Regions from separate parts of the Homo sapiens genome. Here all the other regions are reported to be linked to region 2. The links are microRNA targets in miRTarBase. Many come from high-throughput screens and were not tested one by one. Region 2 holds a microRNA gene; each other region holds the end of a gene's coding sequence.

The links. Region 2 holds the annotated microRNA hsa-miR-660-3p (ACCUCCUGUGUGCAUGGAUUA, at 2,054-2,074, shown strand). A microRNA usually pairs through its seed, bases 2 to 8, with sites in the 3' UTR of a target mRNA and lowers its output. Matches are read on the target gene's strand: a 7mer-m8 pairs with bases 2 to 8, a 7mer-A1 pairs with bases 2 to 7 and ends in A, and an 8mer does both.
Region 1: the mRNA of ZCCHC8 is a reported target of hsa-miR-660-3p. Seed matches in the 3' UTR shown: 7mer-A1 at 1,840-1,846.
Region 3: miRTarBase lists CERT1 as a target of hsa-miR-660-3p. The part of its 3' UTR that is shown has no 7-base or 8-base seed match.

The regions. Positions count from the first base shown.
Region 1 is chr12:122,470,612-122,473,740 of GRCh38, forward strand. ZCCHC8 (zinc finger CCHC-type containing 8) reads right to left here. Exons shown (of 14, transcript NM_017612.5): 14 at 989-3,129. The coding sequence ends at 2,886. Among named protein-coding and RNA genes, the nearest start is that of ZCCHC8, 29 kb to the right of the region's middle.
Region 2 is chrX:50,011,239-50,014,506 of GRCh38, forward strand. MIR660 (microRNA 660) reads left to right here and starts at 2,003; the gene lies at 2,003-2,099. The region is part of intron 3 of CLCN5 (chloride voltage-gated channel 5); the gene reads left to right.
Region 3 is chr5:75,376,769-75,379,897 of GRCh38, forward strand. CERT1 (ceramide transporter 1) reads right to left here. Exons shown (of 17, transcript NM_001379029.1): 17 at 1,007-2,705. The coding sequence ends at 2,578. Among named protein-coding and RNA genes, the nearest start is that of HMGCR, 41 kb to the left of the region's middle. RefSeq lists a silencer at 2,902-3,072.

The DNA of each region.
Region 1 (3,129 bases), not on the chromosome of region 2:
CTGGAGGCTGAGGCAGGAGAATCACTTGAACTTGGGAGGTGGAGGCTGTAGTGAGCTGTGATCATGCCACTGTACTCCAGCCTGGGTGACAGAGCGAGACCCTGTCCCCCACTCAACACCCCCCAAAAATTGAACAAATGAAATAGCCCATTTTTTGAGAATCAGTGCTTTTGGCTGGGCGCCCGGTGGCTCACACTTATAATCCCAGCACTGTGGGAGGCAAGAGGTGGGCAGATCACCTGAGGTCGGGAGTTCGAGACCAGCCTGACCAACATGAAGAAACCCCGTCTCTACTAAAAATACAAAATTAGCCGGGTGTGTGGCACATGACTGTAATCCCAGCTATTTGGGAGGCTGAGGCAGGAGAATCACTTGAACCCGGGAGGCGGAGCTTGCAGTGAGCCAAGATTGTGCCACTGCACTCCAGCCTCGGCAACAGAGCAAGACTCTGTATCAAAAAAAAAAAAAAAAAAAAAAAAAGAATCAGTGCTTTTGTAGAGCTTTTGACAAGGAGGCAGTACAGCAGTTAAGAGCACAGATACGGGGGTCAGAGAGATCTAGATTTAGATTTACTAGGTTGTGTATCAGCTGTGTGTTTTAGTATGTGTGTATTTAGCTGTGTGTATTTCCTCTCAACAATGAGGTTAACAATGCCTACCCAATGTGGTGACGGTGAAAATGGGGTAATGCACAAAAATACCTTAACACGATGTCTGGTAAATGGCAAAGAGATAACTATTAAGAGACCTCTGGTATTCACAGGTGACTCTACTAATGCAGTACTTCTTAAAGGGACATTTAAACAACTACTGCTCTGATTTAGGGAATAGTCAAGTCTTTAGTTGAACACTCACCTTAAGAACCACTTCTGGAATGTCGACAAGTTCCTTTAACCTCTCTCTGCCTCCCTTTCCTTACTTCCAAGTGGTGATAATAATTTGCCTGACAGAAATGCTGAGCGAGATCAGGTTAAAAACACTATGTAAACAACTGTAAAGGATTGCTTTTATTTTGAACTTAAGCTGAGGAAAAGAAGCCAAAAGTATTTTAAATTTTATTCTATTTCTAGCACATTCTGTGAGGGCTTTAAAAAGAAATTTCTCTCTTTATAATTTTCCTTTCCTTTATTCTTTACAGAACAGTAAATTCTGATTACTCAAGTTCTCAAAAATGAAAGCTATATCTGGAATGTTTCTATTTTGCTCCCCCTGTTGGCCTGAGAGCAGGATAACACTGCCTGAGACTAACAATTCAAGACGATCTAAACATTTATTTTCATGGACTTGACTAATATAAAGATGTAATGGCATTCCACAGAAAGACCTAAACCACAGTTTCAGCTCTATCTTATATATATACCTGACAATTAAAAGCAGTATGTTTATGTTTAATTTTTAATTTTTAACTATTAGGGTTCAAATCTAGAAAATTATTTTTATACAAAGGCTAGCTGCATGCCATTCATTTTTCAAAATAATTACTTTTCAAAAATTCTGCTGTTTCTATATTTAAGGCTGAAATCCACTGAAAACACCCAAACTTGCAATTCCTATCATTATTTTTGTTTTGCTACCACTGATTTTTACAATTTACCTTTTTTTTTTTTTTTTTTTGAGATGGAGTTTTGCTCTTGTTGCCCAGGCTGGAGTGCAATGGCGCGACCTCGGCTCACTGCAACCTCCCACTCCCAGGTTCAAGTGATTCTCCTGCCTCAGCCTCCCGAGTAGCTGGGATTACAGGCATGTACCACCACACCTGGCTAATTTTTGTATTTATGTAGAGATGGGGTTTTGCCATGTTGGCCAGGCTGGTCTCGAACTCCTGACCTCAGGTGATCCTTCCTCCTTGGCCTCCCAAAGTGCTAGGATTATAAGCATGAGCCACCACGCCTGGCCAACAATTTACTTTTAAACTTAAAAGTTATATGCACCGGCCAGGTGAGGTGGCTTACGCCTGTAATCCCAGCACTTTGGGAGGCTGGGCGGGCAGATCACCTGAAGTCAGGAGGTCAAGACCAGCCTGACCCGACGTGGAGAAACCCCATCTCTACTAAAAATACGAAGTTAGCTGGGCGTGGTGGCACATGCCTGTAATCCCAGCTACTCCGGAGGCTGAGGCAGGAGAATCGCTTAAACTCGGGAGGCGGAGGTTGCGGTGAGCCGAGATTGTGCCATTGCACTCCAGCCTGGGCAACAAGAGTGAAACCCTTGTCTCAAAAAAAAAAAAGGTTATATACACTGATTTTACCTGTGAATCACTTTTTTGTATTCAAAGTCTTAGATTATGTATATGAAAACTAATTTATTAAACCTCTGTACACAAAGATGAACATACCTGTATAGCAAGCATATATGAAGGATGAAGTTACAAAAAAGTAAAAGTATTACTAAAATTGACACATGTAAATCACTTACAAAAATACCCCAAATGGGATAAAGCTGCTCATCCCTGATTTTTCTCATTTGGTTGTAGGAGTTGAAACATGAATTTAAAATGGTAGAATTTTTTCTTTTAAAAAGTGATATATTAAACTTATATACAGGATAATTAGCAAAATGTAGAAAGGGAAAACAATGTACAAAAGACAGATAAAAACCATCACTCTCGACGGATAGTCACAATCCAAAAATAGTATAAACCTTAACAAACCCTCTCTAAACCAGGTCATATTCACATCTCCCCCCAAGTTTTGTCAGTGAGAATAAAATATACTGAACTAGTGAGCTCAGTCTTTCTTTAAAATAGGCTTGACTTTGGAACATGAACCTTGGATAGATTTTTAAACATGGGAGGGACAAACAGGAAAACCATTCTATCTATCCACTTAATTAGTACTAATTAACGGAACAAAGTTATTAAATAGCTCTCAGTGCTAAGTCAAGCCATTATTCAGAGGCCTTTTTGTTTTTCTGCTGGTTTCGGGGTGAGTTCTTTAACAAGCTTCTTATCCTGAGGTACATTCCAGTAGATTCTGCCATATTCTCAAATTCAAATGGCGTGATTCCAGTTGCAAATTTGCTCATGTCAGGTATAGGGCTATGAATTTTAGTGGCCGTTGAAGGACTGGTGTCTGCAGGAAAGAGCTTCTGGCTGCCCCCATTGCTGATGTCACAGTTTGGTACGACACTG
Region 2 (3,268 bases):
TCAACTCTCCCTCCTCTTCCTTCCACAGATACTCAAGTGTCTATTAGACAGCAGGTATTATGTTCATCACCAAGGATATAGCAGGGATCAAAATGGACAGGTTGCTACCCTACATTCTGGTAGGGACTCATAAACACACTATACATAAATGTTGTGGATGAATAGGCCACTGTTCAAAAGAATGAAGTAGATCTATATGTTCCTTGTTACCCAGTCTGCATGCACAAGCATGTGCAGGTTCTGCTCAAGTGAAATTCTCAAATGTCCCCAATCCTTGTACACCAGACACACTCAGAGACATGGCCCTGCATGCAGAGAACCCCACCTACTGAAAGGGTAGGAGATGGAGCCTGTTGTGCTCTCCTCTCTCCCATTCTCAGCGTGCAAGCCAGTGAGCTTCCTTAACTCCCTTATAGATGGGGATTAAATGAGGGAAGTCTTCTTACTGCTACTTTCCTTCTTGCTGCTCTGTATAGGAGAGATCCTTTCATTACTTTTCTGTACAGTCACAGATGAACACACTATATGCGGTGAGCCTTCCCTGTAAACCCATGTGAGCACATGTGCACACACGCACACGTGCACACACACATACTCTGTATGGCTGCTTGGGCCTTCAGTCCTGTTCCCCCTCTTGAATCCTGGTACCTGGATGCAAGTGCTGTGTCAATGCGGTGCACCCAGGCAAGCATTCCACGGCTGAGCCTTTTCTGCATAGAGCGAAGAACACCTGTTTATAATCCCCATCCTTCATTCATTCCCACCTTTAACAAGCAGGGGTGGCGCTCCTGTCATGCACCAGACATGGAGAGACAGGGTGGTCAAGAAAGACACAGAACTCATACTCACATGCCTAGTGAGCATGTTTAAGAGAAGGAACTTCCGTTGCCCACATTGTTCATGCATACGTATGTAGCAGAGAGTGAGTCTTCCCATCATCCCCTCTCCAACCCCCCAACAGTGCTCAGCTAGAGAACTACAAAAGGTGTGTCTCCCCTTACACAGAGCTGCAGCCACAGTGTGCATAGGATAATGAGTGTCATTAGCAGCATCTTCTCACTCATGTCTGGTGTGCAAGGCAATAGGCTTTCTACTTGCTGCTTATGCCACCAGAGCTTGAAGGAAAGTGGCCCTACTTGTCAGTCATCTCACACATGCATATGAAGAAAAGACACTTCACCTTTGTATGGTCATAGGAAAATCACCTGTGAGCCAGAGAGTGCTGTTTCTTTTGTACATACACACAAACACAATGGATTTGAAGATGCTCGAGCCTTCTATTCAGGTTGTCCCTCTCTTTCATTCTTCGTAGTTGGGTACAAATGCTATTCCAGTCCATTGCCTTGTACAAAAATTCAGAGAGGGAATCTCATCCATGTTTAAAAGTGTAGAGTCTTTGCATCACCCCTCTATGTCCCATTATTTCATTTCTTTAAGTTATGTATAGAGCAGTGGTTCTCAGTGTGGTCCCTGGGCCAGCAGCATCTGTATCACCTAGGAGCTTGTTCAAAATGCCAATTCTTGGGCTCATCCCTGACCTACTACACCATAAACCATGGAAATCTGTACTTTACCAAGGCTCTCAACTGATTCTGATGCTCACTTAAGTTTGAGAATCACTGATTTAGTATAAGTGCTAGCTAGGGGCAGTGATAAGCTAGTCAGGTGAAGGGTGGAAGAGAATGAGCTCCTGCATTGCTCATGTACGTTCCCAATGCCGAGTCCATGCAGACTGTGGCAGGGAAGCCATCATTTCATTACTGTCTCCACCTCCTCCATAACCACACATTCAGTGAGCACATGAGGCTAAGTGAACACACAACAAGTACTTTATTAGGGAATAGACTTGGCACTGCTTCTCCAGGCGTGCACCTGACACTTTAATCTCAATCTGTCTCTCTCTCAATCAATCAATCAATCTCTCTCCTCTCTCTCTCTTTCTCTCTTTCTGTCTTTCTTTCTCTCTCCTCCCCCACCCCCCTCCCATGTGCAGAAGAATGAACTGCTCCTTCTCCCATACCCATTGCATATCGGAGTTGTGAATTCTCAAAACACCTCCTGTGTGCATGGATTACAGGAGGGTGAGCCTTGTCATCGTGAATCTTCTGCTGAACAATCCAAGTAGCCCGTGTTTATTGCGCACTTTTGATGTGCCATGAGCTGTGCTGGGAGTACCCTGCTAAATAATGGACAGTGTCTCTCTCCGGGACTTCCTATCTAGTGGAGGTATTAGGTGCCTAGACTTCCCCAGGCCTAGGCAACAGACACAGGTGTGTCAGGAATTGAGCCTTCTCATTCTCTTATGAATACACATGCTCACATTGTGCATGCATGTGCACACACACATGTGTAAGTGTAGAAACATTTCTGTACAAAGCTGAAAGGAAGGAGCCTTATTATCTAAACTTGCCTGCAAGTTTCCTTGCCACACACACTCAGATGCATGCCTGGTGTGCAGGTGCCTGGACTTTGATTTTTGCTTGCCCTCTCCTAGCCTTGCAGCCTAGGCACAAGTGCTGTCTTAGCAGTGCAATGGGCTTGTGCAAGGATACCAGCTTGTGAGCCTTGCCTATGTGTAGGACAGAGCCTGTCCATCCCTTCTCTTTCCTTTGTTCATTCTTTCAGTCAGTCATTTGTGTGTGCATGTTTTTGGTCCATTCATTTATTCATCCCTTTAACAAATTTACTGAATTCCTGCTGTTTGGGAATGCCACAGTAAACTAACCTGTCAGAGATGCCGACCTTACTGTCTAGCAGGCTCATGGAGAATAAGCATCCTCATGTCATCCAACTTCCTGTGAATACATGGGCTCAGGGTGCCAGAAATCAGGCTTTTCTTTATTCCCTCCCACAGACATGGGTACCTGTGCAAATATATGTGGTGTGCACATCCTGAGCCTGCTGCTCTGCTTCCCCTTGTATCCTTGCCACCTAAATGTGCATGCTGTCTCAGTGCAGCACCTATTCCAGGACTCTCAGAGGGGCCTTTTTCTGCCCATAGACAGACAAAGTGCCTGTGAGTCACACTTCCTCCTCCCTCTCCTTCCCCTCTACCTCCCTTTCACAAGTATTGAGCACTTAGTACATGCTAACGCTGTGCTGCCAGGGCAGTGGGCATATGGTATCACACAAGATGGACTTGGTTCTTGCCTCAAAGAATATGTGTAGGAGACTTGACTTTTTGTCACCTAATATTCCTGCACGTGCTGAGTTAGTGTGGGCCACAACATGGGACTTCTTATTGACACCCTCTCCCAACATATACACA
Region 3 (3,129 bases), not on the chromosome of region 2:
GATAAAGCTAAACAACTGAGACATCAATGCAATATCCCTTATGTTAGTATGGGATATTAGTTAGTATCGGACAATAAATTTAGCTTTTGCATTTTTTAAAAGAAAGACATACTATAAACATCATTAGAAATCAGACTTGTTTAAAATTATTTCATTATATAATTGACTATTATTTTTAGCTAAAGAAAAGGACTCAAGAATATACATTTCTCAGTCAATTATTTAACATCCAGTGTAGGTGAGAATGAGAGAATATTCATGTTATTGCTTACCATTTGTGTATCACAATTGGCAATATCTACTAATATTTTAAATGTTATTACAAAATAGAATTTATAGAAATAGTACTATACAAAAGATTCTCAATGGACTAAAGCAGGCTTAAACTCAGTCATAAGAAGAGGAATACAATTAAAACTACACTGAGAGAGTATTTTTCACCTAATGAGTTGGGAAAGTTATAAAGTTTTGTTTTACACGTTGTATGAAAAACTGTGGGACACAGGGACTCCAATTCATTATTGCTGTTGAGATGGTCAATTACTATAACCTCTATGAAAAGTAGTATCTAAATTATGCACAAACCCCTAGCAGGGCCAGTAGTACCACATCTATTAATTTTCCCACATATAAACTTGCAAGTACAAAATGACATATGGATACAATTATGACACTGCTCTGGCAGAAATTGGAAACTGTAATATTCGCCAATGCAGAACTGATTAAATAAATTATGTACATCTATACAATGGGATACTGTATAACCATCAAAATGAGGAAGCTCCTTACAAATATGTGAGACCTTCAAGATAAAATAAATGCAAATATAAGATGTTGAACAGTGTTTATAGTATGCTGCTGCTTCTTTAACAACAAAAAAAGTGTATCTGTGTAGAAAATACACTTGTATTTGTTCATTCAAGCATTAAAAACTTTCTAGAAGAAACTAGTAATAGCATATGTTAATACTATATGGTGAATGCAAGACAGGGTAAATTTTACTGTATAACTTTTTCATACTTTTGACTTTATTTATTTATTTTTTGACAGACATTACCTGTCCAGGCTGGAGTGCAGTCGTGTAATCACAGCTCACTGCAGCCTCAAACTCCCAGACAAAGCGATCTTCCTGCTTCAGCCTCCCAAGTACCTAGGACTATACATGTATACCACCACGCCTAATTGTTTTTTGTCAAGATGGAATCTTGCTATGTTATCCAGGCTAGACTTGAACTCCTGGCCTCAAGCCATTCTCCCACCTCAGTCTCCCAAAAAGTGTTGGGATTACAGGTGTGACCCACTGCACCTGGCCACTTTTGGCTTTTAATCATGTTAACGTATCACTTACTTTAAAAAGTTAAAGATTTTGGGCTGAGTGCAGTGGCTCACGCCTGTAAACCCAGCATTTTGGGAGGCCCAGGAGAGCAGGTCACCTGAGGTAAGGAGTTCGAGACCAGCCTGGCCAACATGGTGAAACCCTGCCTCTACTAAAAATACAAAAATAGGCTGGGCGTGGTGATGGACGCCTGTAATCCCAGCTACTCGGGAGGCTGAGGCAGGAGAATCGCTTGAACCTGGGAGGCAGAGGTTGCAGTGAGCCAAGATTGCACCACTGCACTCCAGCCTGGGCAGCAAGAGAGAAACTTTGTCTCAACAACACCAAAATAAAGTTAAAGATTCTACCTCTTTGCATAAAGGTGTTCAGTGCTGTACTGGTTGACAGTAAAAATATGGAACCAACTCAGACATTAACATGGGACTAGTTAATAAATTCTGCAACATGCATGTAACAGATGTTAAAAGAATGAGATGTTTTACACATCTCATGTCTTATAAAGAAAGATAGTCAAGATACATTGTTAAGTGAAAAAAAGGTTATAAAACAAGAATTTTGTATAATAGTAAGTATAAACATTTTAACATTCAAAAATATGTCAGTACATACACAGAAAAATCTGGAGGAATATACAACAAAAATAACAGTTTCTGGGAAAGGAAAGAATACAGGAAGTTTGCACTTCTACAATTCTACAGTTCTATAATATCAAAATTTCTTTACATAAGCATTAGAAGAAAAAGGAAACAATAAAAGAATTAAGTTTTAAAGGCTATAAACTACAATTTTCAAGGCCAGGCACGGTGGCTCATGTCTGTAATCCCAGCACTTTGGGAGGCTGAGGCAGGAGGATTGTCTGAGGCCAGGAGTTCAAGACCAGCTTGGGTAACATAGCAAGACCCCTATCTCTACAAAAAATAAAAAATTAGCTGAGCATGGTGGCACATGCCTGTGGGGACTCCCAGCTACTGGGAAGGCTGAGATGAGAGGATTGTTTGAGGCCAGAGGTTGAGGTTGCAGTGAGCCGTGATGGTGTCATTGCACTTCAGCTTAGGAAACAGAGCAAGACCCTGTTTAAAACAACAACAACGACAACAACAAAAACCAACGAAACAATACTCTATAGGGGAACATCAAAAAACATAGTAAATACTTTCAACAACTAAATTTTAGTATTGACAGTCATATTAGTCAAATAAAGTTAAAAAAAGATAAAACATATCTTCTAGTACCTGTTAATACTAGAACAAAATAGGCTTTCCTGCAGTTTTTTCTTGGACGTAAGAAGTAAAACGTTTTAGAAATTTAGGATACTCTCGCTTTGCCACTGCCCTTAACACTGAGGCTGGTGCCCATCCTCCAGGGTTCACTGCAAGATAAAGGAAAATTAAAATGTATTAAGATACAATTCTCCAAACATATGTGAAGCACTTAATTTGTTCCCTTGTTTTTAAAATATTCCTCACATTGGACCAATTAGCATCTTTTTTTTTTCTTTTTGAGACGGAGTCTTGCTCTGTTGCCAGGGTGCAGTGCAGTGGCGCGATCTTGGCTCACTGCAACTTCCGCCTCCGGGGTTCAAGTGATTCTCCTGCCTCAGCCTCCGGAGTAGCTGGGATTACAGGTGCACGCCACCATGCCCAGCTAATTTTGTATTTTTAGTAGAGATGGGTTTTCACCATGTTGGCTAGGATGGTCTCGAACTCTTGACCTCATGATCCGCCCGCCTCAGCCTCCCAAGGTGCTGGGATTACAGGCTGAGTCACTGTACCCAGCTGGACCAATTATGATCT